3 separate regions of the Homo sapiens genome follow, and all the other regions are linked to region 2. The links come from fine-mapping of genetic effects on gene expression. A gene starts in region 2. Each other region holds a variant in brackets. All regions are shown on one strand. Distances are between the middles of the regions.

Region 1 (8,303 bases), 52 kb before region 2:
CCACCCCATGTCCCTCCTCTTTTCAACATTCACACAGAAGTCCTCAGACCCCCAATCCTGGAAATTATGAATTCTGCAAGAGTTAGTTCAGACAGCCCTCATTCCTTCAAATATTCAACAACACGAAGAACCTTCCATTTATGAGCAAGGCCTTGTGCTGGGCCCTTCACACCTTTTGCCTCTAATCCTTAGAACAATTCGCCTGATGTGTCTGATTGTCACTTTAGATATGATAAAACAGAAGTGCTTATAAAGGTGAAGCTGCTAGCCCAAGGCCACATAAGTATTAATCAGTGCAGAATGGAGACTGGATTCAGACCCTCTTTGCAGTGCACTGCAGCGACCCTCACAGATATTGGGACCCATGAAAAAGGCCCCGCTTCTGCATAGTCCCCCATGCTCAAGGCAGAGATCTTGGTGGCTTATGCCCTCTTCTCTGTGTGGCAGTCACCCAGGGTTTTAGGCATCGATACCTGGAGTCCCACAGGCCCAGGGAGGTATGGCCAGCAGGGACTATGAATCTACATTCAGGTCCACAGCTGGCCCACCCGGCTCTGTAGACCCCCTCCTCTTCCTCACCATTCCCAGGTGGGGTCGAGCCTTCCCTCCCTCTGAGCCCCTCCAGCCCAGCCCAGATTCCTCAGACATATCCTGCCCATGTAGACTTGGGGTCCTGGGCTCCCACAGATCTGAGCCCCAGTTCGGAATTCCTCCCAGTTCAGTGCACTTTCCCTCAGTAGCCTCAAGTTTCCTCCTATGTAAAATGAAGGTGCTCCTTGTCGGGCATGACAGTGCAAGAAACAGCAGGCCACTGGCTGGGGAGGAGCCGTGGGCATTGAATTGTGACTCAGTGCCCAGCTTCCTTCAGCATTCAGACTTCTCCCCTCAGGGCTTGACCACCCTGCCCCACCCACCGCTGATCCACACAGCCTCTGCAGAGATGAGCTCCAGGCCAGGTGGGGGCTGGGCCCAGCTACAGGTGCGGCTGGTGTGATGAACACAGTGTCATGCCTGCTCAGCTCCTGGACCAACAACCCCCTCCTGCTGCCCTCGGGTGGGTAAGCAGTGCCTGGGTGACATCACTCATCTCCCCTCCCTACCCTCACCCGCCCAGGCTGCCCAGCTGAGATAAGAAAAGGCCCCACAGCCTGTGCCTGGCAAGGGAAAATTCTGTCCTCAGAGCCCCAATCTGAGGTGATGATACCACCAGGGCCCACCCAACCACCAACTCCCTCCTTTTCCTGAGGCCAGGAGTCAGAGGGAACCCCGGGAGGCTGGAGGTCAAATCAGCTATGAACACCTCGGGGCAACTGTTCTGGAAGGTTCTGAGAATCACAGCATCTGTGGTCTTGCCAGAGTGGTCCTTGGTGGGACCACTTATGCTTTAGAAAAGAAAAGCCCTCTGAGGTGGGTGGATCACCTGAGGTCAGGTGTTCGAGATCAGCCTGGCCAATGTGGTGAAACCCTGTCTCTACTAAAAATACAAAAATTAGCCAGGCGTGGTGGTGGGTGCCTATAATCCCAGCTACTCAGAAGGCTGAGGCAGGAGAATCGCTTGAACCCGGGGGGCAGAGGTTGCAGTAAGCTGAGATCTCACCACTGGGTGAAAGACCGAAACTCTGTCTCAGAAAAGAAAAAAAAAAAAAAAGAAAGAAAGAAAGAAAAAGAAAAGAAAGAAAAGCCCCAAATTGGGAGTCAGGAAGTCCTAGCAAATGCTTGACCTTGAGCAAGGCACTTAACCTGTTTCAACCTCGCTTTCCTCTTCCACAAAATGGGGATGAAAATCAACCCCCAACCCTGCAGAGTGTCTATATCAAACTAAATCCTCATCTGTGGAATGGGCTCCCAGTGGCTCCCTCCCCGCCAGGTGACACTCACCAACACGCGTGGGAAAGACCTCTTCGTCGTTGATGAGGCCTTCGATCCAGTCCATGAGCAATGCCATATAGCGCGGCGCAGAGAGCTTGGCGGGCCGCCGGTACTGGCGCTCGTCCTGCCAGCGGTACTCGTAGCGGGGCCCGCCGGCCATGACCGGGCAGCTGGTCTCACTGCAGCGCTCCGCCATAGTGCCGTAGATGAGGTTGATGCGGTTGAAGAAGTCCACCACGTGCACGGCGATCCAGTCGTCGATGTTCTCCCCGGGTGGTAGCCTCACCACACTGCGCAGGTCCAGGCCCGACTTGAGAGAGGCCTGTGCCTTCTTGTACAGCTCAAAGCGCTGTGTGCCCGGCTCAAAGCGCTTCCGCGGCCGGAACGTCTTGTCCTTGGCGAACACCTGCTTCAGGCACAGGGCCATGGCCAGCTGGGCCTGGGGCTGCTGTCCAGGGGCTCGGACCTGAGGATACCCTGCCAGGGACAAGGGCATAGGGGAGCTGGCGGTCAAGGCCTTATCATCTGGGCTCTGACTTCCCAATTCATCATTTCCCTGTCACCTCTCAGCCTTTGCTCAACCTCTGCATCCTCTGCCTGGAATCTAAGTCCTCAGCCCCTAGGTCCAGTGCCCCGCCCTCTTTCCAGGCTATGTTAGTCCCCCTTGCTAAGCCCCCACAGTCCTCCCATCTTGCTTTGTCTCTTTTCTGCTTTCATTGCAGAGCTGGGCCTGGGCTCTAAACAGGTGCCCCTCAGACTTGCTGTTGGTCACGAGAGAGGTCGCAGAGGCTCCCTGCAGGCCCACCAGCAGACAGGGGCTTGGACGAGATGACCTCTGGGAGCCCCCTTGGCCAGCTGGTGCAACGTGGGAGAGCCTCGCAGCATTGTGCTGGGGGCAGGGTGGAGGGGGGTCGGGGGTGGCTTTCGGCTTCCTCTGGGATATCCCGTAGTCCATCCGGCCACCGGGGATTCCCAGGGAGCAGCAGGGAACTTTTCTACCAAAAATGTCCTTTCCTTTTTTTTCACCCTGAAAGAGGAAAGGGCCCTCCCGCTGCCAGCTGGGCGGCTTCTGAGTGTGGCTGCAAGCACTGGAGGAGGGGGAGGGCGGCAGGCCAATGAGGGCGTCGCTTCCTCTGACAACAGCTGGAGATCCTTCCCCTCAAGCCAGCCTCCTCCAGCCCCAAATCTGAACAAGCCACTGGCTCCTCCCGTTGCACCTGACACTCAGTAGACATTCCTCTAGCAACTACTATGTGCCTGGCACTGGGAGGTAGAAGAGTATAGTCAGATGCACCCAGGAGGGCCCATCTAGAGCTCAGGCAAATTTACTTTGCCTCCTAGAATTTAAGGATCCCAGATTCAGAACAAATTTTGGGAGACAGTGATCAGGGCCCTAGGCTCAGAGGCAGGAGTCCTGGGTTCTAGTCCCAGCTCTACCACTGGCTTACTGGGTGACCCCTGTATCACCATGGATTTAGCCCATCCAGGTCCTGGGTCACTCTGCTATAGCTAGGTTTCTAAGACCTGAGTCATCTCATCTCAACTGTGAGTGTGTGAGCTACTGGGAAATGCAGACCCATGTACCTACCAAAACTAGAATTTAGCCACCCACTAAGCACACTGCCCCTGCCCCTAGACTGAGCACTAAGGCTGAGTATAAGCTAAGAATTGCATTCTGGTTCCTGGCTGACCTCTGACCTGGGCTCTGGCAAGTGTGAGCCCTGACTCTAGCCTTTAGCCCTACCCTGAGGCTTGCTTATGGCCAAAGCCTGGGCTTGACCTCTGACGCTGGAGCACTGTCCTTTCTCACATCTCTGGTAACCCTGGGACAGGATTGGGGAAGGGAGGGTGGGAACCAGGTGACACCTGGGTAAAAGCAAAGGGATGGCACATATTTCGGGGAGGGGTATTACTTCTGGCAAGAAGTCAAACTAGCTGGGGAGCTGTTTGAGACAAAGGTCCTTCCTTGAACCCACAAAGGCAGGCCAGGATGGGGGCAGTCTGGTAAAATGAGAGCAGCTTGGAGAGTAGAAACAGGCCATTCAGCAGGAACTTGTTCTCTTGAAAAAAACTCACAGATGTGAAAGGTCATCTCATCCATCCCGACTCTTC[G/A]ACTTCTCACCCAAAGAAGTCCCCAGGGTGGGACCCCAGTTTCCAGAGCAAAGAGATTTCTGCGCTTCATTTGCCATCTCCATTTTAAACTCTGCTTGGGGCAAGTGCTTCCAAAATCCCTCACACTGCAATTAGGCGGGGCTCCTGGGCTCCCCACATTGCATGGCCCCCTTTATGACAGTTAGAAATAGGCCCCCACCCTGGCATTCAGCACCTTGTCCTACCTTTCCTGCCCCACTTCCCACCTCCCCACACCAACCACCCTGGGCTTCTTCCTGATTCCTGAACACGCCCCCACTCTTTTGCCTCTGCATGTTTTCTTATCCCTCCACCTGCCTGACCACACATCCTCAGATTGGCTGCTACCTCCTCCCACAGCCTCCTCTCCTGAACTCAGATCTCCTTCTCCTTGGGTAGAGGCTGCTTTTGGTCATTGCAGTCTCCACTCCATCCCCAACCCACCCCCAGCTTAGGACAAGGCCTGGCACAAAGTCAGTGTTCAGGCTTTAAGGAAAGCTTAGACTAGAATCTTAGAGTTAAAATAGCCCTGATAGATCAGCTGGCCCAACTCACTTGTACAGATGGGGAAACTGAGGCCCAGATGAGGAAACTGAGGCCTAAAAAGAGGACTTGAGGAGCCTGTGTCCACATAGCAAGTTACAAGCAGAACTGGGAACTGGGATAAGGTGGGGCTCAGCTCATGACCAAGAGTAAAAGACCATTTTCCTGCACTGGCTCATCAATGGTCTGGTGGAGACAGAGAAGAGGAGGGGAGTGGAGGGACAGTGGAAGCATCTTCTCCACCAAACAGCCCAACCTGCTTCCTGTCCCCAACACACTGACTCCGCACAGCAACTGGGGTGTCCTGACCAGTGAGCTAGAGTTCCACCTTACTCCTGTGGAACTTCAAGGCCTGGGTCTCTTTCCAGGAAAATGTAAGCTCAGGGGGTGGGTGCAGGGCAGGTGCTCTTCTAGCCACAGGGTTAACTCCCTTCACTCCCCACCCCCATGCCCTCACTGAGTTTCTATCTGTCACAGAACCTCTGTCTCTCCCTGAACCACTGCCGTTCCCCGTCCTAGCCCCCATTTCCCAGTGATGGCTATCCTTTCACTCCTGGAGTGGCAGTGCCTTGCTCGTTCCCTGGGTGCGGATCTGGGCTTCTCAAATGAAGACAGCAGGCTGACCCTACCTGTTTCTGATATTTAGCCCCCTGCTAGGCTACATCTACCACTCCTTGGGCCTGGCCCAGGATCTGGGCCAGAGGATGGCCCCAGTTTGAACCCAGAATCCATCCTGGGACTCTCTCTAGGACAGAGGTCGAAGAGAAAAAGTAGAGGCGAAGACTCCACGCTCTCCTCGCGGCGCGCAGCCACCCACGCCCACCCCCGGCTTCCCTGCAACCTCAAACCAGCTCCCAGGGCCAGGAAGGTCGTAGGACCCAGAGGAGCCCGCCTGACATTTCCGCTCCCCGAAAACACGCCCCCCAACCCCTCCCCTCTGCCCCGTACTCCCCCACCCCGACAATCCCCCCCGCAACTTTCGAAGCTCTGAGCCTCGGACGCCAGCCTCAGGACAGCGGCCAGCCTGCCTTCGGGCGGGACTCTCCTCCGGACTGTGCCACGCCAGGACGGCCGAAGAAATGAAAGTGGAAGCCAGGCGGGCGGGGTGCGCGGCGAGGCCGCAGGGGCACGGCGCACACTCACGGGTCCTCTTCTGGCCGTGGGGTCACATTCCCAGCCACAGGATCGCCTTTCTCCTGCAGGTCCCGCAGTGCCTGTTCTCTCTCCTGTCAGCCTGTCCGTCTGCCTGTCCTGCCGGCCGCGGCTGCCCTCCTGCCCCGGGCGACGCCAGCTCCGCCCCGGCCCCGCCACGCCGCGGCCACGGGGCGGGGAGGGGCGGAGAAAGGGGACTCCCCTCCACTCCAGTACACAGACGCACTCGCCCCCACCTTCCCGGAAAGTCCATATGGGGCTCCCAGCTTCCCCTTGGACAAAGGACTAACTGAGCTGCCCGCCCTCTCGGTGCTTCCTTGGACCTCCACCAAGGAGGCAGCCTCAAGTTCCCAGACAGTAAAATGGGAAAACGCTCGGCTTCTTCTGGAGCAGAAACAAGAGCTGCTAGATAAGGGTGGTTTCTTTGCCCTCCTAGAATCGTCTGCGTCACACTTGTCCCGGGACCCAATAAGGGATCGGGACCGTCCTATCCACTCCCATATCCTCAGCTCCTGGCACATAGCAGGAACTCAAAACCCACTTGATGAATGAATGAATGGGTGAGTGAAGGAATAAATGAACGCCTTGGGAATCATGAGCTGAGTCCTTCACCCCTGAGGGACAAGCCCCAGAAGAGCGCTCAAATCACAAACTTCATCTCCTCACCAGGGAGGGGGCCTGGCTCAGGTTGGGCTGATTCTCCTTGCTCCTTACCCAGAGTCACCCCATTTCTTATCTCCAGACCCTTATCCCAGCTGTTCCATTTTAGAATACCTTCTCTCCCTCCTTCCTTCTGACAAATCCAAACCACTCAAGATCTGATCTGCTCTCCCTACCACCTGGGTTCCTTCGAGGACAGACAGATATCCCACCAGCATTCAATGCACACCGTGGCCCCCAGGCCCAGGGACCAGTTGGCTGCTCTGTCTGGGATGGGAGGGAAGATTGGAGGCTTTCTAGGGTAGGAAGCCCAAAGCAGAGAGCTTAGCCATAGAAGCCACTCTGGAGGGGTGGGAGGTGAGTAGATGCGGGTAGGGGAGAGCTGGAGGCCAGAGGTGGGCATTTACCATGGCACACTGGACCTCCCTTGTGTCTGGACCTTCTGTTGCTGGATGACATGAGAACACGCTAGATCCTTAACCCAGATCATATCCTTTGCAGCAACATGGGCTGGAGCTGGAGGCCATTATCCTAAGCAGACTAACACAGGAATAGAAAACCAAATACTGCATATTCTCACTTACAAGTAGGAGCTAAACAATGAGAATACATAGATACTAGGAGGGGAACAGCAGACACTGGGGCCTGCTTGGGAGTGGAGGGCGGGAGGAGGGAGGATGAGACAAAAATACCCATCAGGTACTATGCTGCTTACCTCGGTGATGAAATTATCTGTACACCAAATCCCCATGACACAGAGTTTACTTATATAACAAACCTACACATGTACCCTTGAACCTAAAATAAAAGTAAAGAAAGAATCCCAGCTCATAGAACTGTGGGTATGTTCTTTTGTTGAGCACCAATTTTTGCCCCAGTCTAAAGTTCTCTGTATTTTTATGTCTGACTCTTAACTCTCTGCCCTGAATCCCCTATAAACAAACACTTGCTTATGGAGCAAATTAAACTATGCTTCTTTATTTATTTGATATCCTAATCAATATCTTTTATTGAGTATAACTCTCCACTCATATCAGATCAGGGGACTGGGTGATAAAGCTGACCTGGTTGCCGACCTCAGGTGCTGACAGGTCAGTAAAGGGGACAACACACAGAGATACACAAGGTCACAGCTCAGTCACCCAGAAGTGAGAATGTGGTTGTGGACTGACGGACTTTGTAAGAGTCGGGGTATTTGCAGGAAGCACATGGAACACCCAGAATGGGTATGTTTAATGAAGACATTATTTACAGGTATGGTCAAGGTGTAGGGAAACCACACAGTGTATCACCAAAGGGCTCACAAGAGCAGAGGCTGTCAACCCCAGGCTGCAGGAGTGTGGGGAAGGAATGGTGAAAGTGGGAGCTATGAGGAGGGCGCTGCTGTGGCCTAAGGTGGAGGGGCATACCCAGCTCACAGCAATCATACAGGGAAGGACAGGGGGCAAGTAAGAGGCCTCACTCTCCTCCCTCTCTCCCTCCGTCTGATCTCTGGCCAGGTTTCCCCCACTAGCTGAATCCTCCCAGAAGCTAAGAACAAGGGAACCTGTTGCTGCAGCCCATAGACGTCAGCCTCCTAGGGCGTAGAAATGGGTAGAGGGTGGAGAGCCATCTGAGGAGCCATGTGGGGTCAGGGCTGACTTCATAGGGGAAATGATTTGGAAACTGCTTGTGTTTTCCTTATCATTCAGTTCTAAATAGTTCATAAATTTCAGTGTAATTTCCTCTTTAACTCTTGAATGATTTCAAAGTATGTTTTTCAGTTTCTCAGCCTATGGGAGGTTTATGTTTTTCTTGTTGAGTTCTAATTATATTGCATTGTGGTCAGAGATCATGGTCTGGAAGATTCTTCAGAATTTGATGTGACTTCCTCTGCAGAGGCTTTGTGCAGGGTCATTTTCTGGACCTCTGAGCTGGGTTTTACAGGATAGGCAGGAGTTTTTCTGGTG
Region 2 (8,303 bases):
TAAAAGTGTTCCTATTTCTCCACATCCTCTCCAGCACCTGTTGTTTCCTGACTTTTTAATGATTGCCATTCTAACTGGTGTGAGATGGTATCTCATTGTGGTTTTGATTTGCATTTCTCCAATGGCCAGTGATGATGAGCATTTTTTCATGTGTCTTTTGGCTGCATAAATGTCTTCTTTTGAGAAGTGTCTGTTCGTATCCTTTGTCCACTTTTTGATGGGGTTTTTTTTTTCTTGTAAATTTGTTTGAGTTCACTGTAGATTCTGGATATTAGCCCTTTGTCAGATGAGTAGTAGTCATTAAGACTCAGCAGATTCACTTAAAATTCAGGATACCCAAGGCAAAAAAAGTATTTTCCAAGTAAAATAAACACCTCTAATTTGACTTTAAAACACAATGTAGAATCCCAATTTTCTACTGTAACTACCTTAATTCAGGCTTCTGCAGCCCACACCTGGATTACTCCATATTCTCCCTGGCGCTGGCCTCTCCTACACCAGTTTGTTCTGTGCACCATCCTAGGTTAGAATTTTTCAAATAATAGGTTGTGAAATACATTTAGTGGATTGTGATCAGAGTTTTTTAAAAGATGAAAGAGAATAAAAAGTAATAAGAATGGACTGCATGTTGTAAAAGTTAGCATTATTTTATACATTTTTTTTTCAGTTACAATCATATACCTACATGTGTACTGAATTGCAATGTAAAATATATTTCTTATTGTGGTCATGGTCAAAAAGTTTGAAAAACACTGCATTAGAATAATCTTCCCAGACACAGTTTTCAACATGCTTTTCCTCAGCTTTGATTCCTATTTAAGGATAATAATGGCTAATATATATTAAGTACTTATGCCAGAGACGGCGCTAAAGAGTTTTAAATGGTATTATCTCTTCAGCACAACTCTGTGAAGTAGGTACTGTTATTATTCCTGTTTTACAGATAAGCAAACTGAGGCATGGAGAAGTAACAATTTGCTCAGAGTCACCCAGCTAGTAAGTGGAAGGGTTAGGATTCAGTCCTTGGCATCTGGCCCCAGAGCCCATCCTCTTAGCAGCTAAATTATCCTGCCTGTACTCCTTAAGCCCAAAGAGTTTAATGCCTAACTTATTTCTTTAGCCTTAACACTTCCCTCTCCATTTTAACTGGGCATAGTACCTTGCTGTCTCCTGAAACCCCTTTTACTTTCAAAGCTCTTCCTCTGTTTAAGCTAATTCCTCAACATGGGAATGGATGGGGGTGGGTTGGCAGGGTTGGCTGGTTGTCAGGAAACTAAATCTAGTCTGCCAAATATTTTTGTAGATTAAGTTTTACTGGGACAGAACCATACCTATTCATTTACGTACGGTCTAGGCCTGCTTTTGCACTATGATGGCAGAGCTGAGTAGTCACAAAGAAGACCATACGGCCCACAATGCCTAAAATATTTAACATCTAGTTCTTTACAGAAAAAATTTGATGACCCCTGCTCTACATCAAAGTCCCATTCCTTCCTCTCTACTTAATTTAAATCCCCCACAACGTTCCTAGCCTAGGTCAGGTTCCATCTCCCATGGGAAATTTTCTCTGATACCTCTAGCCTACTACCATGTGTGCCTTGCCTTGACCACCAGACTGCTCCTCTTGGGAGCAGGAAGTACCCCTCTCATACTTCTATATCTCCACCATGACCACAGTACTTTGCCTAGAAAGAGCAGGATAAACATTTATGGATGGAAATGGAGTTGGGAGAGACTATGTTCAGTTCACCCAGCTGACCCATCAATAAACCAACTTTAAGGATAAGGGTGAGGGTAAGGAGGGTGAAGGAGTGCTGGTAAGCAAACACCACAAATGGGGGAAGGTCTTACCTTCTGTTCCACACATTTGATAAAATCACCTTGCCTGGAATGCCCCACTGGCTGCTTCCGAAATTCACTGCGTTTCTCCAGGCGGGACTCAAAAGCAGCTGGGTCTGACCTGATCAGAGGTAAACCAAAGGGTAAACCAACTGGGCCTTTTTGAATTCTAAAATAACAAAGCATCACTTTCCACCTCTACAGAGAAAGGACACTGCCATTCAGAGAGGTTGAAAAATTTGCCTTCAGTTAGTAAGAACTGGGCACAGGCCTAGAAATAAAGAAACTGGAAAAAGAAATCCTGTTATTCAACTGTTGTTAATCCTCAAGGGGCCTGTGTAACATTTTTCTTTTGCAGGCTGTTCCCTAGGTTTACACAGGGCTTAGTCTCTCAGGTACTTACATTCAGGGTACTTAGAATTTTGAGGTCATCTTGCTGGATCACCTCTTCAGACAAGAATCCTATAGCCTCCTTACTAGGTGTCAAGCTTTTACTTGAATACATCCAGTTCTTGAAAATATGTCCCCCCAACCAGGTTAAACATCTGCTTTATTCAGATCCTGGTGATTCAGAGGCTTTAGGTAGCCTATTTTGCAGAAGATTTAGCATCTGAGTATCTCCCTAACCTACCCTCCAAAGAAGCTGCTCTTGGAGATGAAACAACAGAACACATTGTTTATGTCAAAATGGGGTTGGTCTTCAGGTTTGAAGTCCAGGCTGGGGTGCTGTCCCTATTAAGAATTCTTCAGACTGTGTAGCTAACCATGGGATATTTGGTTTTGTACACTTTGGTGAAGATATCATCCAGGGATTCCAGCTCTTTGGCCATGAGACCCAGAGTTTCATGGGTGAGGTCTGGAGGACCCAGGGACATCTTGGCTATCCCTCTGGTGGACTTTCCTGGTCAATGCATTATAGGGGGCCCCTTCTTCCATAAAATTCCTTTCTGGAGGTGACATAAAACACCACTCCCTTCACTGTCATGTAGATGGGATGTTTTTCTTCTCTCTGTAGTGGGCCGGCTCCTCCTCAATAAAGAGCCTCACCAGGGGTTTCTGCTTAGTCGGGCATGGCACCTGCCTGGCCAGAGCTGCAAGCAGCCCTGGGGGCTGTACCAGGACCAGGGTCAACCCTGCTAGTGGCTACAGCTGCAACTGGGCCTGCCATAGTGAAGGGGTAGAGAGGGCAAGGGACAGCCTGGGCAGTGAAGCTGTTGCTGGGATCTGAGGATATAGAAATAAATAAGTCAGACTCCCTACCTCAAGGAGCTCACTATCCAGTGGGAGAGACAGGCATAAAAGTAAACAAATGAAAGTACAACAGGTATTATGATGAAAATTTGCTCAAACATCCCCAAATGGTTAAGGTGGTTTCATGCCTCTGTACCTTTGTTTATGTTGCTGCTCCCCTTACCTGGAACATCCCCTCCTCTCCATTCTTTTTCAAAGGAAGTTTGCTAACAGATAAAACTAGAGAGAGACTGGCAGGGACTAGGGTATGAGGAACTTGTGTGAAACATTAAGGAGTTTGGATGTTATTTAGAGGTCAGTGGGGGGATAACAGTATGTGTAAATGTTGATGGGAATGATCCAGTGGGGAAGGACGGTAAAACCAGTTATTTATTTGTTCATGAGTGGGTAAGAATAAATGGATGCTGATAAAGTATTCAAAGTACAAGTAGACAACTCTTCAGAGATGCTTGTGTGTAAAACAGATCAAATACAGATCAACGAGAGAAGCCTGGAGGGGAATGTACATCAAAGAAAGGCTTTTAAGATGACAAATACTTGAGACTATCTCAATGCTGCTGGAAGGAGAGCAAAAATACTCATTCATTTACTGCATAACTGTTTCAAATGGCAAGAAAGATCACTACAGTAGCAGTGAGAGGAACTGGGGTAAAGTAGTCCAGGAATGGAAGTAGGGAACTCTAGTTAGAGGATAATGGCAACAGCCCAGGTGACGATGATGGAGTAGATTAAGGCAGTGGAAGTAGAGATGAGACAGAACTCAAATTTACAGTACTAAGTCTTTGGTTTCCTTTCATAAGACAACTACCTTCTTACCCTGCTAAATTCTCTCCCAAGCCCCTTTAATTTTCACCTCTGATCTCCTTTAGCTCTTCCCACTTGAACTCTTCAGATGCTCCTATAGCCCCTCATATGCACCTTAAGCCCCTCTAAGCTCCAGATCCTTCCCTCTGGAAGCTAAGAGGTGGTGTTAGGGACCCTGGACTCAGAGTCAGACAAATCCCAAACAGCTGTGTGACCTTTGGCAAGTCTCTTACTCTCGCTGATCCTCAGTCTCCTTAAGAGGGTTCAATGGGTGATCCGACTGTGACACTATTAGTCTTTGATGCCCTCCTCCCATCCCCAGTCGCCTTTCCTTGCAGTCAAGGCCCTAAGCTACCACCAGCCTGGGAACTCCAGCTCTGAGCCAGGCCTCAGCTATCTTAATATGTGACCTTGAGCAAGTCAAGTCCCTTCTCTAGAAGGCGTTTTCCCATTTCTATAATGAGGACAGGTGTCTCTGAGCTGCCTGCCTCAGGGCTGTCATAAGAGTCCACCTTAGCGTTTGGAGAACCAAAGCAGACAAACGTGGAACGAGCCAGGGCTTTGCAGAGACTCCCAGCTCTGACACCAATTAGCTGTGTGATCTTGGGCAAGTGACCTAGCCTCGCGGAGCCTGGCTACATCATCTGAAGAGCTGGGACAGTACTAGTGCCCACCTCACAGGGCTGTCCTAAGGCCCAGCAGCCCGGGCCGCCCCTCCTCCCGCCTCCTGCCCGCCTCCAGCCAACCCAGGCCCGCACCTGCGCAGCAGCTGGATCTTGTCGCGGTAGCGGTCGTAGAAAGGGTTGGCCTGGAGCTCGGCCTCGGCCCCGACCCCGCTGCTGTCGGCGCCCCCCTCGGGCCGGCCCGAGCCGGGGCGCACTGGGAAGACGCGCAGCTGCGCGGGTGACACGAGCCCCAGGCCCAGGGCGCGGCTGCGCACCGCGCACAGGCCCCGGTAGAGACCGGCCACCTGCAGGACCGCCGGTCCCGCGCCACCCGCAGCCGCCACCACCACAGCAGCCATGGCCGCCCCCGCCTCCTCCTCCTCCTCAGGCGCGTCGGCCTCGGCCCGCGGCCCGCGCGCCCGCTCCATCCCGCTCCGAGTGCGCCGCGCCCGCGCTCCGGCACCGAGGTTCCGCGCGCCCAAGGTTCCGGGCGCGGGATAGCGGCGAGGCGGGGCGGGGAGGAGGGGGCGCGCCGCTCTGGCCCCGGCACTGCGCGCTCTCGCCGCCCTGTGTATGCCACGGCCCGCCTCCTCCAGGGAGGCTGCCCAAATTCAACGCCCTTCCTCCCTCTGGGACCAGCAGCCTCTGCGCGCCAAGTCCGTTCTCTAAAGCCAGCGGATCTCCATGTCCTCGCGGTGCTTGCCCCTGGCACTCGCTGTAGTGCCAGGCACTCGATGTAGTAGTCCGTCCTTCAGCATCGAAGGTCTTTTCATCAACTATAATCACAGCAGCAAGCTTCTCTTTACTGAGGTTGCTATGTGCAGGACACTGAGCGGCTTCATACTCTGTGTGGCAGTATTATCCTCATCTAACAAATAAGGAAACTGAGGCCGAGAGTAATTATGTGACTTGTTCAAGTTCTACCCGACAGCTGAGCTCTTTTCAAGATGGCAGCTGCCTCCCAAGCCTCCTTTTCCTCTGCTTCCTGACATCCTCCTTGAACTCCAGCCACAGTGACCTATTCTCTCCCAAAGAAACACCAGGATTACTCCTTGAAGAGTCCTTATTCAGGCCCTTTTTGACCCCTGGAATCCTCTCTCCTTCCATTCTCTCAACCCAAATGCCACAATCTTCCTTACCGTCTGAACCAGGTGTGAGCTCCTAGGGTCAGGGACAGTGACATTAACATCTCTGTGTCCCACCTGCTCACAGAACAGGGCCAGTCCTGGAGTGGGCTCTCTGGGACAGTACTCATCATCAGGTCCTTCTTGTCTGGGTTTTGTCTGATTGAAGCCCCTCCTGGGACAGGGGCAGAGCCTTCAACTCTGCTCAATCCAACCTATGCTCATGGAGATCAGCCCTGAGCCCTGCCCTGTGCGAGGAACAGTGTAATGGAAGATGAATAAGTCCTTCAAGTATGCCAGCCCATACCTGGCTCACACTCCTAACACTTGCTGTTTTCTCTGTGGATCTGCATGTGGCTGCCTCCTCATCATCTAAGGGCTCAGTTCACATGTAAGCACCTCCAAGGGACCTAAATGACAACCCCTCCATCTCTTTATAGTCTTTATCCCATCACTCTATTGCATTCTCTTTATAGCAGTTATCATTATCTGAAGTTCTTAGATCCTTGTTTATATTAATTCATTGAGCTTACATTCTAGTGGAGTGAAACAGACAGTAAATATATAATGTTAGGTGATGCTACATGGTATGCAGAAAAACAGCAGGCCAAGAGAGATAGAGATAAGGGGACACTTGAGCAGAGACCTGAAGGTAATGTGGGAATGCTGGGGGAAGAGCCTTCCAGGTAGGGGAAACAGCAAGTGCAAAGGCCCTGATGAGGAGGTTATTGAGTCTGAATGAGTGAGGGCACAGCAGCAGAAATGAGACCAAGAAGGTATAGGGAGGGCTAGTTAGATTGCTTAGGCCTTGGTTAAGGACTTTGATTTTAAATCGAATGAGATCGGAAGTTACTATATGTTTTAAGCAGTGGAGTAACATGATCTACTTTTTAAAAGGATCATGCTGGCTGCTGGTGGGATTTAGGATATGTGGAGGCAAGGATGGAAACTCTCCCAAGGGTGACTAATTTATTCCAGTTTGCCTAGGACTTTCTTGGCTCTAGCATTGAAAGCCCCATGTCCTGAGAACCCACCCCAAGTCCTGGGCAAACCAGGATGTTGGTCACCCTACAGGGAACAGTAATCCAAGTGAGAGATGGTGGTACTTGGACTAAAGTGATAGTGATAAAAAAAAGTGGCCAGATTTTGGTTATATTTTGAAATAAAAGCCTAAAGATCTTGCTGATGGAGTCAGTGTGGGTGTGATAGAATGAAAGGAGTCAAGGATGACTTGCAGGTTTTTGGCCTGAACAACCCGAAGGACAGAGATACTACTTATGAAGAGGAGGAAGGCTGTAGGTAGGGTAGACTTTGGAGGATGGATAATCAGAGTTTGGTTTTGGACATGTTGGTTTGGGATAATTTAACAGACTGGCAAGGAGGGATGTCAACCAGGTATTTGGGTATGAGTCTAAAGTTCTGAGGAGCATTCCAGGCTGGAGAGATACAGTTGCGTACTGTCAGTGTATAGTGATATTTAAAGCCAGGGGTCTGGGTGAGATAACTGATGGAATGAATGTAGATAGAGCACTAAGAACTGAGCCCTAGACATGCCTACATTTAGAGATCAGGGGAAAAGGGAGAAACCAGCAAAGGAGACTGGAAAGTAGGGGCCAGTGATATACGAGGAGAACAAGGGTAAGTGGACCCTGGAGAGAATTCTGTGCTAAATAGTTCCCTAAGTCACACATTGGAGGACTATAAAGAGGGGAGTCATTAAAATGGTGCTAAGAAGCTGAGCTACAAGCAGTGGTGCAACATACTGGGAAGGCTGACTTAAGCTTAATTAGGGAAGGGCTTTCTAACTGAGCTGCCCATAAATGCATCAAGCTGCCTCAGGAGGTGGTGAGCAAGTTCCTGACTCAAGTGAGTCTTGAGTCCAGGGAGATTAGTTGCTGTGTGGGGAAAAATCTACCCCCAGGAGTCAAGCATGGCCCTGATGGTGGGATCAGATGGTGGAGATGAACTAGACAACTCTCAAAGTTTCTTCAAATTGGCGATGATATGATTCTGGGCAGTCTGTCACAGAGTAGGGGGGCTGAGCTGAGTCTTGAAGGATGAGCAGGTGTTCAGTGGTGGAAAAGTGGGCAGGGGCACTCCTGGGTGAAGGAGCAGCATGGGCACACCTCCAGAGATGTGAATGAGCAGGGTCTGTTCAGGAGTACGGACTAGGCAAAAGGGAAAAGTGTGTGGAGGACGAGGAGGGAAGTAAGGCTGGAAGTAGATGCAGGCCAGATGGTGGGAAGCCCCACAGGGCCTGGGGCCTGGGAAACACTTGTCAGCACTTGAAGGAAGGTAATTAAATAAAAGACAGATTGTTGGAGCCAAAGAAGGAGGTATTGACCACTTGGTTCCCTTGAGCAGGTTTCTTCCTGCCAACTTGGTTAGATACTTTTTGAGAACAGGGCTGCCCAATGCTGTGTGTTCCTTGTTACATTCCTCACTGGGGACAGGTATCCCATCAACCGTTCCCTAAAGACCAGCAACATCCGTAAGTACCTGAGGGACAATGGCCCTTTTCTGGGGTCTGCTCTGTGGGTTCACCATAAGGGGTAGGTACAGACAATTCAATAGGTGAACCAGTCTCTGATGGAAGTAGTAGTGACATTCCACCCAAAAA
Region 3 (8,303 bases), 28 kb after region 2:
ATTTAACTGACAGCCTGGCTGGAGCTGGAACATGCTAGACAGCCTGCCTTTCATCCACGAGCACATGTTTCAGCATTTGGGAGTCTAAGAGCCTTGCTCAAATTCCTGATGCACAGAATAGTGAGAAATAATTACTTGTTTTAAGCCACAAACTTCTGGGGGTGCTTTGTTATGTAGTAATAAACAATGAGACACTTTTCCACTTCCTTTCCTTCTTTTCCATTTTCTGTCCTACCCATTCCATCCTCAGGAACTGTGTCTTATTACCTTACCTCCTCCAGTACTATGTTTGCAAAAGATTTGGCTTTTAATTTTATCTACCATAATTGCTTTATTAACAAATTGTAGAACAATCAATGTATACTGCTTATTAGATCTTTTGAACAGATGCATAGCAGGGCCTTTTCAGATTAGTGGAAAGTTGGCAACATGACTCTTACACAAAAAAGGGTGAGCAGGAGCATGCTGACTTGCTGGGTCTCCTTACCATATCACTCTGCAGTAATTCCATCGTTTTCTTGTGTTCATCCACAGTTTTCTGTAGTGCTTCCACAGCAAGATGGACGCTGTTTAAAGTATTGCCAATGGAAGCTACACTCTGAATGGAAACATATAGGAAGGTGTAAAAAAGCTTTAAGAGACAACTGACATGCAATAAACTGTACATATTCAAAAATGTATAATTTGAATGTTTTGACACATAAACAATTGTGAAACCAGTACTACAATCAAGATAATAAACACTCATCACCTCTGAAAGTTTCCTCATGACTCTCTGTAATCACTCCCTTGCCGATCGTTCCCAGGCAACCACTGATCCACTTTCTGTCACAATAAATCAGTCTTCATTTTCTAGATTTTATATAAGTAGAACCAGTGAGCAAGTAGTGCTTTTTAAAGTGTGGCTGCTTCTACTCAGCAGAATTGGGATTCATCCATGTTGAGGCTACTTGGCAGGCTGCCGAGCAGCATTCCATTGTGTGGCTCTATCACAGTTTATCTCTCCCCCTGCTCATGGACATTTAGGCTGTGTTCAATATTTGACTATTACAAATGAAGCTGCTATAAACATTCGTGTTCAGGTCTTCATGTGGACTTATAGACATTCCCCTTTATCATATGCTTTCTAATCGCCATAATACCTAGCAGGTGAATGGCTGATCATATGGCAGGTCTATGCTTCACTTGTTAAAAAACTGCCCAACAATGTTCTAAAATGGTTATGCCATTTTACATTCCCACCAGCAGGGAATGAGAGTTCCTGTTACTCCATATCCTCACCAATCCTGTACCAATATTGGTACAGTCATTCTTTTCAACTTCAGCCATTCTAATGGAAGTGTATATTGTGATTTTAATTTACATTGCCCTAATGAAACACTGCCCTAATGAAAATCGGTGTTTCTGATTATTTCAAATATCTTCAAACTATGATTACATGTAGTGTATACTGAGATAATTAACAGGACTCTTTCTCTATCAATCAAACAAGTAATTTTCTTAATTTAAATGATTTTTCCTAGAGGAAAACCAAATCTTCCCTAAAGAAAAAATATTAGTTTATAAATCTGGAACCCAGGGATAAGGTTCTCTCACAAACTGCCTCTGTCAATCCCTGCTGTGGGAAGGCAGATGGCCGAGCTAACACAGTAGACTGCCACTTGTTAGGAGCAAAGGACACTTCGAGCAAAAGTGGGAGGGAACCATATCTGGCTTTGGGAAACTCAATACTGCAGAGATGAAAAAAAAGTAGAATCCTGTCAGCAACCACTGAATAGGGATATGAGTAGTGGCTTACTTTGCTTTCATTAGCCCTAAAAAGCCCAAGTGGACAGGGAACTTGGAGATATAATTCAGAAGCCATGTTTTAAAAAAAGCCTGTCCTAAGGGAACATCTAAAAGGGTGTTACTATTCAGTGAGTTTTGGCCTTTTCAAGACATGCTGACAGTTTTACAGTGCCACATTAGTATTTTTAACCAAGGTCATTTTTATTACACTGATATCCAAGAATCCAAGAGAACACGAGATGACACTAATAAAAATTACATGAGATACAATAAAGTTAGGTATTTGGCATGACCTACCACTTCAAAACTGAGCCACTTGAAAGAAACACAGTGCCTGGCATGATAAACACACAGATTTGCAAAGAGACAACACACTGGGTAAAAGTATCTAAGCTGGTTTGCTATCTATGTAAGCTCTGTTGCTATCTATGTAAGCTCTGAATGCCTGTTGCAAAAGCTACAGGCATTCAAAGACACCTACTGTTTGTGAATCCAATCCTCACTGGCTGGATGTATGAACCCATTGGGATGCCAGAAGATAGTAAGCTCTTGTTTAAGGATTTTTTTTTTCTTTTCTTTTTTCCCCTAAGGAAGCAACTGACAGAGCCATGTGAACTCTGGAGCAAAACTCTGAAACTAGTATTCCCATCAACAGCAAAGTGCCTGGTACATACTGGAGGAAGTTCCACAAATGTTTATTGAATGAATAAATTCAAGAATAAACCAGTTTCCTTTTCTGGTACCAAAACAGAGATATAGACCAATGGAACAGAACAGAGCCCTCAGAAATAATACCACACATCTACAACCATCTGATCTTTGACAAACCTGACAAAAACAAAAAATGGGAAAGGATTCCCTATTTAATAAATGGTGCTGGGAAAACTGGCTAGCCATATGTAGAAAGCTGAAACTGGATCCCTTCCTTACACCTTATACAAAAATTAATTCAAGATGGATTAAATACTTAAATGTTAGACCTAAAACCATAAAAACCCTAGAAGAAAACCTAGGCAATACCATTCAGGACATAGGCATGGGCAAGGACTTCATGTCTAAAACACCAAAAGCAATGGCAACAAAAGCCAAAATTGACAAATGGGATCTAACTAAACTAAAGAGCTTCTGCACAGCAAAAGAAACTACCATCAGAGTGAACAGGCAACCTACAGAATGGAAGAAAATTTTTGCAATCTCCTCATCTGACAAACGGCTAATATCCAGAATCTACAAAGAACTTAAACAAATTTACAAGAAAAAATCAAACAACCCCATCAAAAAGTGGGTGAAGGATACGAACAGACACTTCTCAAAAGAAGACATTTATGCAGCCAACAGACACATGAAAAAATGCTCATCATCACTGGCCATCACAGAAATGCAAATCAAAACCACAATGAGATACCATCTCACACCAGTTAGAATGGTGATCATTAAAAATCAGGAAACAACAGGTGCTGGAGAGGATGTGGAGAAATAGGAACACTTTTACACTGTTGGTGGGACTGTAAACTAGTTCAACCATTGTGGAAGACAGTGTGGAGATTCCTCAAGGATCTAGAACTAGAAATACCATTTGACCCAGCCATCCCGTTACTGGGTATATACCCAAAGGATTATAAATCATGTTGCTATAAAGACACACGCACACTTATGTTTATTGCGGCACTATTCACAATAGCAAAGACTTGGAACCAACCCAAATGTCCATCAGTGATAGACTAGATTAAGAAAACATGGCAGATATACACCATGGAATACTATGCAGCCATAAAAAATGATGAGTTCATGTTCTTTGTAGGGACATGGATGAAGCTGGAAACCATCATTCTCAGCAAACTATTGCAAGGACAAAAAACCAAACACTGCATGTTCTCACTCATAGGTGGGAATTGAACAATGAGAACACTTGGACACAGGAAGGGGAACATCACACACCGGGGCCTGTTTTGGGGTGGGGGGAGGGATAGCATTAGGAGATATACCTAATGTAAATGATGAGTTAATGGGTGCAGCACACCAACATGGCACATATATACATACGTAACAAACCTGCACGTTGTGCACATGTACCCTAGAACTTAAAGTGTAATAAAAAAAAGAATAAACCAGTTTCCTTTTCTAATGCAAGACTGTGAGAGCTGCTTCTGTACTAATGGCTACAGAAGCCTATCATTTCCTGAATTGGCCCTAGGAACAACGGCAAGAATCTGGCCTCATCAGAGTTGTCCCTACCC[CT/C]TTTTTTTCCCCCCGAATTTGTAAGTAGATGGCCACATTGGACAAGTAGCAAATTATGGAGACTGAGCACACACAGATGGTGTGGCTATAAAATAGCAAATTTTGTCTTCGCTTATGGCTTAGAAATTTCTTGCTCCTTTGTGGAAAGAATTCATATGCTCATAGACCCTGGCACATAATCTGACCAAACTTAGCACATATTTTTATAATTCAAAGATCCTAGATTTGATATCCACCGTTTGGGGAATCCCTTCTTCCATTTCCTGTGTCAGGGGATGATGTTCTTTATGTTCGAATTAGGCACCTCTTCTGCCTTCCTACCCCTATCCACTCTTCCCGTCCATCTCTAAGGATCCCTGAGTACTATTCATCTGGTTGGTCACAGCTCACTGTAGCCTCAACCTCCCAGGCTCAAGTGATCTTCCTACTTCAGCCTCCCATGTAGCTGGGACTACAGTTGTGTGCCACCATGCCCAGCTAACTTTAAAATTTTTTGTAAAGACGAGGTCTCCCTATGTTGCCCAGGCTGGTCTGTAATTCCTGGGTTCAAGTGATCCTCCTGGCTCAGCCTCCCAAAACGTTGGGATTACAGTCATGAGCTACCATGCCCAGCCTCCAAAGTGATTTTTACCAATTAATACTCCTAGCAGGAGCAGGAGTGTTTGAAAATTTCCTTCGTTCCACATATCCTTGCCAACACTTGTTTCCTGAATTTTTAATTTTTGCATTTCCCCAGGTCATCTTTTTTTTTTTTTTTTAACTTTCTTAATTATGGAAAGTAACAGAGATTTAGGGTAACTATCATGTACAATTGGTCTGCTTTGATGAAGATATTGTGAGTGGTGAACTGAAAAAGCAAGCTGAAAAGCGAACCCATATATGCTAACACAAGAGTGCCAGCAGAGCAATTCTGGGACTCAGAGAGCCAAATAAAAAGGTATGAACCCATATAAATCACAGCTGAGGTAACCTGTTGCAAATTAAAGGCCTAACTAACCAGACCAAAACAAAATTGTTCTGAATTCTTTAGGACACAGTGATACACTCCATTACTGCCCTCTTGGAGCAGCTGATTTCAAATGCTAGGCTTTCAATGAAAACTTATAAGAAGCTAGAATTATGGCAAATAGTACCCACACATGGCACCTACCTTCTGAAGTCTCTGTACCCACACATGGCACCTACCTTCTGAAGTCCCTCTACAGTGGTAGGCAGGCTAATCAAGTCTGCAGCTGACTTAACATTGGCTTTGAGGTGGTTCACTGCAGAAGTCAACAGAGAAATCTGAACAAAAAAGAGTAACAAACAATGAAAACAAATGAGAATTTGTAGAGGACACGTTACCTTCACAAACTCTACGGTTGGTGATGTCAAGATAGTCTAGGATTTTATGTGTTTCTGCAACCCTGTCAGCTCACAGAAGTAAAGGAGACAGTACTTTGGATAGAGTTGGGATCTGGGAGGCAACAATAATACCCCTTCTTTCCCTGCCCAATTTGAACACTAGTGTCAAAGAGTGAAGGCAAGTGTTATTCTTTACCCTGTCCTGGCAGCACAAGATCCCAAAATCTTAAATTACTCAAAAGATGCTGTAATTATCACACACTCCCTCAACAATTGGACAGGAAGAAAGCTAATGATGAAGGATCACTTCAAAATTTCATTTTGGTAAAATGTAATACCTCAGTAATTTACCAAACTTTTGTTCCTGCCCAAGTGGGAACATATAAAGTAAAAGCCCATCTCACAAAATACAGTCTACAGGAACTGCACTCTGACAATTTGAACAGCACTTTCAACTACTTGGGGATTTGGTTTTGGTTTAAAAATGTGACTAATATTTCAAACTCAATAGCTCTACCAGAGCACTACTTTGTATCCTGAAGGGGCTCAATAAATACTCACTGACTCACTGACTGATGCAATGTATGTATTAAAATAGGAATTTAATCAAAATAAAATGAGGCTTCCGTTCTGCTATTTAGGCATAGAATTCTAAACATCTAGACTTCGCTCTTGAATGGGAACTGGGGGAACCTGTGTAATAGTCAGTTTCAGGCTGCAGAGACAATATTCTAAAAGCTTTGCAGTTTGGCTCGAAACACTTGAAAGACTCTTAGTTCTAAACCGCTTTCCCATTCTAAATTCTAGGATGAGAACACAGATCTACCAATAGCAATTATATTCAGAGTGGCCTCAGAGTACCCACCAGTTTCTGGGCACTTGTTATGGGCCAAGCACAGTGGTAGGCACTGGGGGGTGTAAGACAAAACAGAACCTGATTCCCTACTCATTCCTTTAGCAAATGTTTGGCATCTCTGTGCCAGACACTGCTGCAGTCATTGTGGAGACAGCAGAGAGGCAAACAAGACCATGAAGCTCTGCTCTCATGGAGCATACATCCTAGTAAAAGGTGACAGAAAAACAAAGAAAAGAAATCAGATTGTAATAAGTACTGTGCTAAGAATTTTTTCCTTTCTCTCTCTCTCTTTTTTTTTTTTTTTTTGAGACAGTCTTGCTCTGTTGCCCAGGCTGGAGTACAGTGCAGTGATCTTGGCTCACCGCAGCCTCTGCCTCCTGGGTTCAAGTGATTCTCGTGCCTCAGCCTCCTGAGTAGCCGGGATTACAGGTGCATGCCCCTACACCTGGCAAATTTTTGCATTTTTAGTAAAGATAGGGGTTTCGCCATGTTGGCCAGGCTGGTCTTGAACTCCTGGCCTTAAGTGATCCACCTGCCTTGGTCTCCCAAAGTGCTGGGATTACAGGCATGAGCCACCATGTCCGGCTATGCAAAGAATTTAATTTAAACAAAGCTCCCTGAGTAAGTAGTAGTAGCTTGGTCTGAGACAGGGAGTCTGGTAAGGAGCCTGGGAACTCGGGAACTCAAGTTCTCTTTTCCCTCTTTTCTTTTAGAAGGCAAAAGTTCAGAGGCTTAAGATGAATTTTCAGCCACTCACTAATAAAACAAATACTACTGGACCCTATTATTCACCACTGGTGAACAACACAGATGTCAGGGATCCTGTGGTGTTTACATTTTAGTGCAAGCAGACAGACACTTTTATATAGAAAAATATCAGATAGTGGGAAGCACTAGAAAAAAATTAAAATAAAGTAACTTGACAGGAGTGACTGGGTAGCAACTTTTAGACTGATCGGTCTGAGGAGGCCTCTGTAAGGAGATAAAATTTAAACTGAGATCTGAATAGTAAGAAAGAATTAATCATATGAAGATTGGATGAAGCCTATTTCAGGGAAGAGGGAACTGCTAGACCAAAAGTCCCAGTACAGGAAAGAGCTTGGCATATTCAGAGAACAGAAGTTTAGGTGGCAGGATCTCATAATGTGTGTGTGTATGTGAGAGAGACAGAGAGACAAAGTAGGTGGTGAGGCCAGTTGTGCAGTAAAGTGCCAGAACAGACAGGACTCTGTAAACCAGAACAAGCACATGGGTTTTACTTGAGGTGTGATAGGCAGGGGTGTGTAAGCAGGATAATTACATGAATGGAGACACCTTGGAGGAAGACTACTATGGCTGTCAGTAGAAATGGAGAGACCAGTAAGAAGGAGATCTGTGTAGTCTCGGCAAGAGATAATGGTGGTTTAGACTTGAGTGGTAGTAGAGGTAGTAGCAGAAGTAGAGATGATACGATTTGCTGGGACTGGGTGTTAACAGTGGGGAAGATAGAAGAATTAAGGGAAACTCTTAGGTCTCTCACCTCAAGGAGCTTTCAATATAACTGAGAGACAAGGCAAGAGTACATTAAAGAAACAATTAAGCATTAAACGTGATACTGAATAAAGTTCTGAGAAAAGGATATCAATGCAAGCTGAAAGAAACAGGCTTCGCTGAAGGAGGACTCAAATTGGACTCTGACAGAGAAGTTAGAATTTTATACATAAAAACCAAGCAGGCATTCTTTCTAGGTTAGAAGGGTGAGGGTGGCATCGGGGGATAGGGAACACAGTATGAACAGGCTCAGGAGTACTTTCTTTTCATAGCACTTCTCAAAGTGACAATGATTTGTTTAGGTGGTTATTTGATTGAGGTTTCTCTCTTCCACAAGACTATAAGCTCCACATGATCAAGGACCATGTCTCTTTTACTTTCCACAATACCCGTGATACAAAGACTGGCATTTGTTGAATGAATGGCTGAGAATTAACACTCTGTGTCTGGGATGGACATTGAGAAGGCTAGTCTAAGCAGAGTAGAAGACAGAGGCCGGGGGGTAGGAGATAAGGCTAGATAAGTAGTGAATTTATTCTTTTCATCA

Direction of the effects. Positions count from the first base shown, and alleles are read on the strand shown. Sizes are in standard deviations (SD) of each study's normalised expression. Not every link is listed here.
As copies of CT replace C in region 3, the expression in esophagus mucosa of the gene that starts at base 4,960 in region 2 goes down (moderate effect, 0.56 SD a copy in GTEx).

What was found. PIP is the estimated chance that this variant, and not a neighbour inherited with it, causes the effect.
Region 1: its variant is fine-mapped to the expression of ATPAF1 in whole blood (TOPMed, PIP above 0.99).
Region 3: its variant is fine-mapped to the expression of ATPAF1 in esophagus mucosa (GTEx, PIP 0.95).

Annotation. Positions count from the first base shown.
Region 1 is chr1:46,611,026-46,619,328 of GRCh38, forward strand. MOB3C (MOB kinase activator 3C) reads right to left here and starts at 5,786. Exons shown (of 4, transcript NM_201403.3): 1 at 5,686-5,786; 2 at 1,879-2,346. The coding sequence starts at 2,296. RefSeq lists enhancers at 2,236-2,859, 5,211-5,280 and a silencer at 5,681-5,960. The variant G/A (reference allele first, on the strand shown) is at 3,982.
Region 2 is chr1:46,663,405-46,671,707 of GRCh38, forward strand. ATPAF1 (ATP synthase mitochondrial F1 complex assembly factor 1) reads right to left here and starts at 4,960. Exons shown (of 9, transcript NM_001394565.1): 1 at 4,653-4,960; 2 at 1,852-1,960. The coding sequence starts at 4,918. It also overlaps the pseudogene NENFP1 and a transcript of TEX38 not described here. RefSeq lists enhancers at 2,406-2,935, 2,936-3,464, 5,260-5,409 and silencers at 4,530-5,149, 4,577-4,747.
Region 3 is chr1:46,691,340-46,699,642 of GRCh38, forward strand. EFCAB14 (EF-hand calcium binding domain 14) reads right to left here. Exons shown (of 11, transcript NM_014774.3): 4 at 5,212-5,310; 5 at 488-598. It overlaps EFCAB14-AS1 (EFCAB14 antisense RNA 1), which reads left to right. Exons shown (of 3, transcript NR_038828.1): 3 at 535-759. Among named protein-coding and RNA genes, the nearest start is that of EFCAB14-AS1, 21 kb to the left of the region's middle. The variant CT/C (reference allele first, on the strand shown) is at 4,026.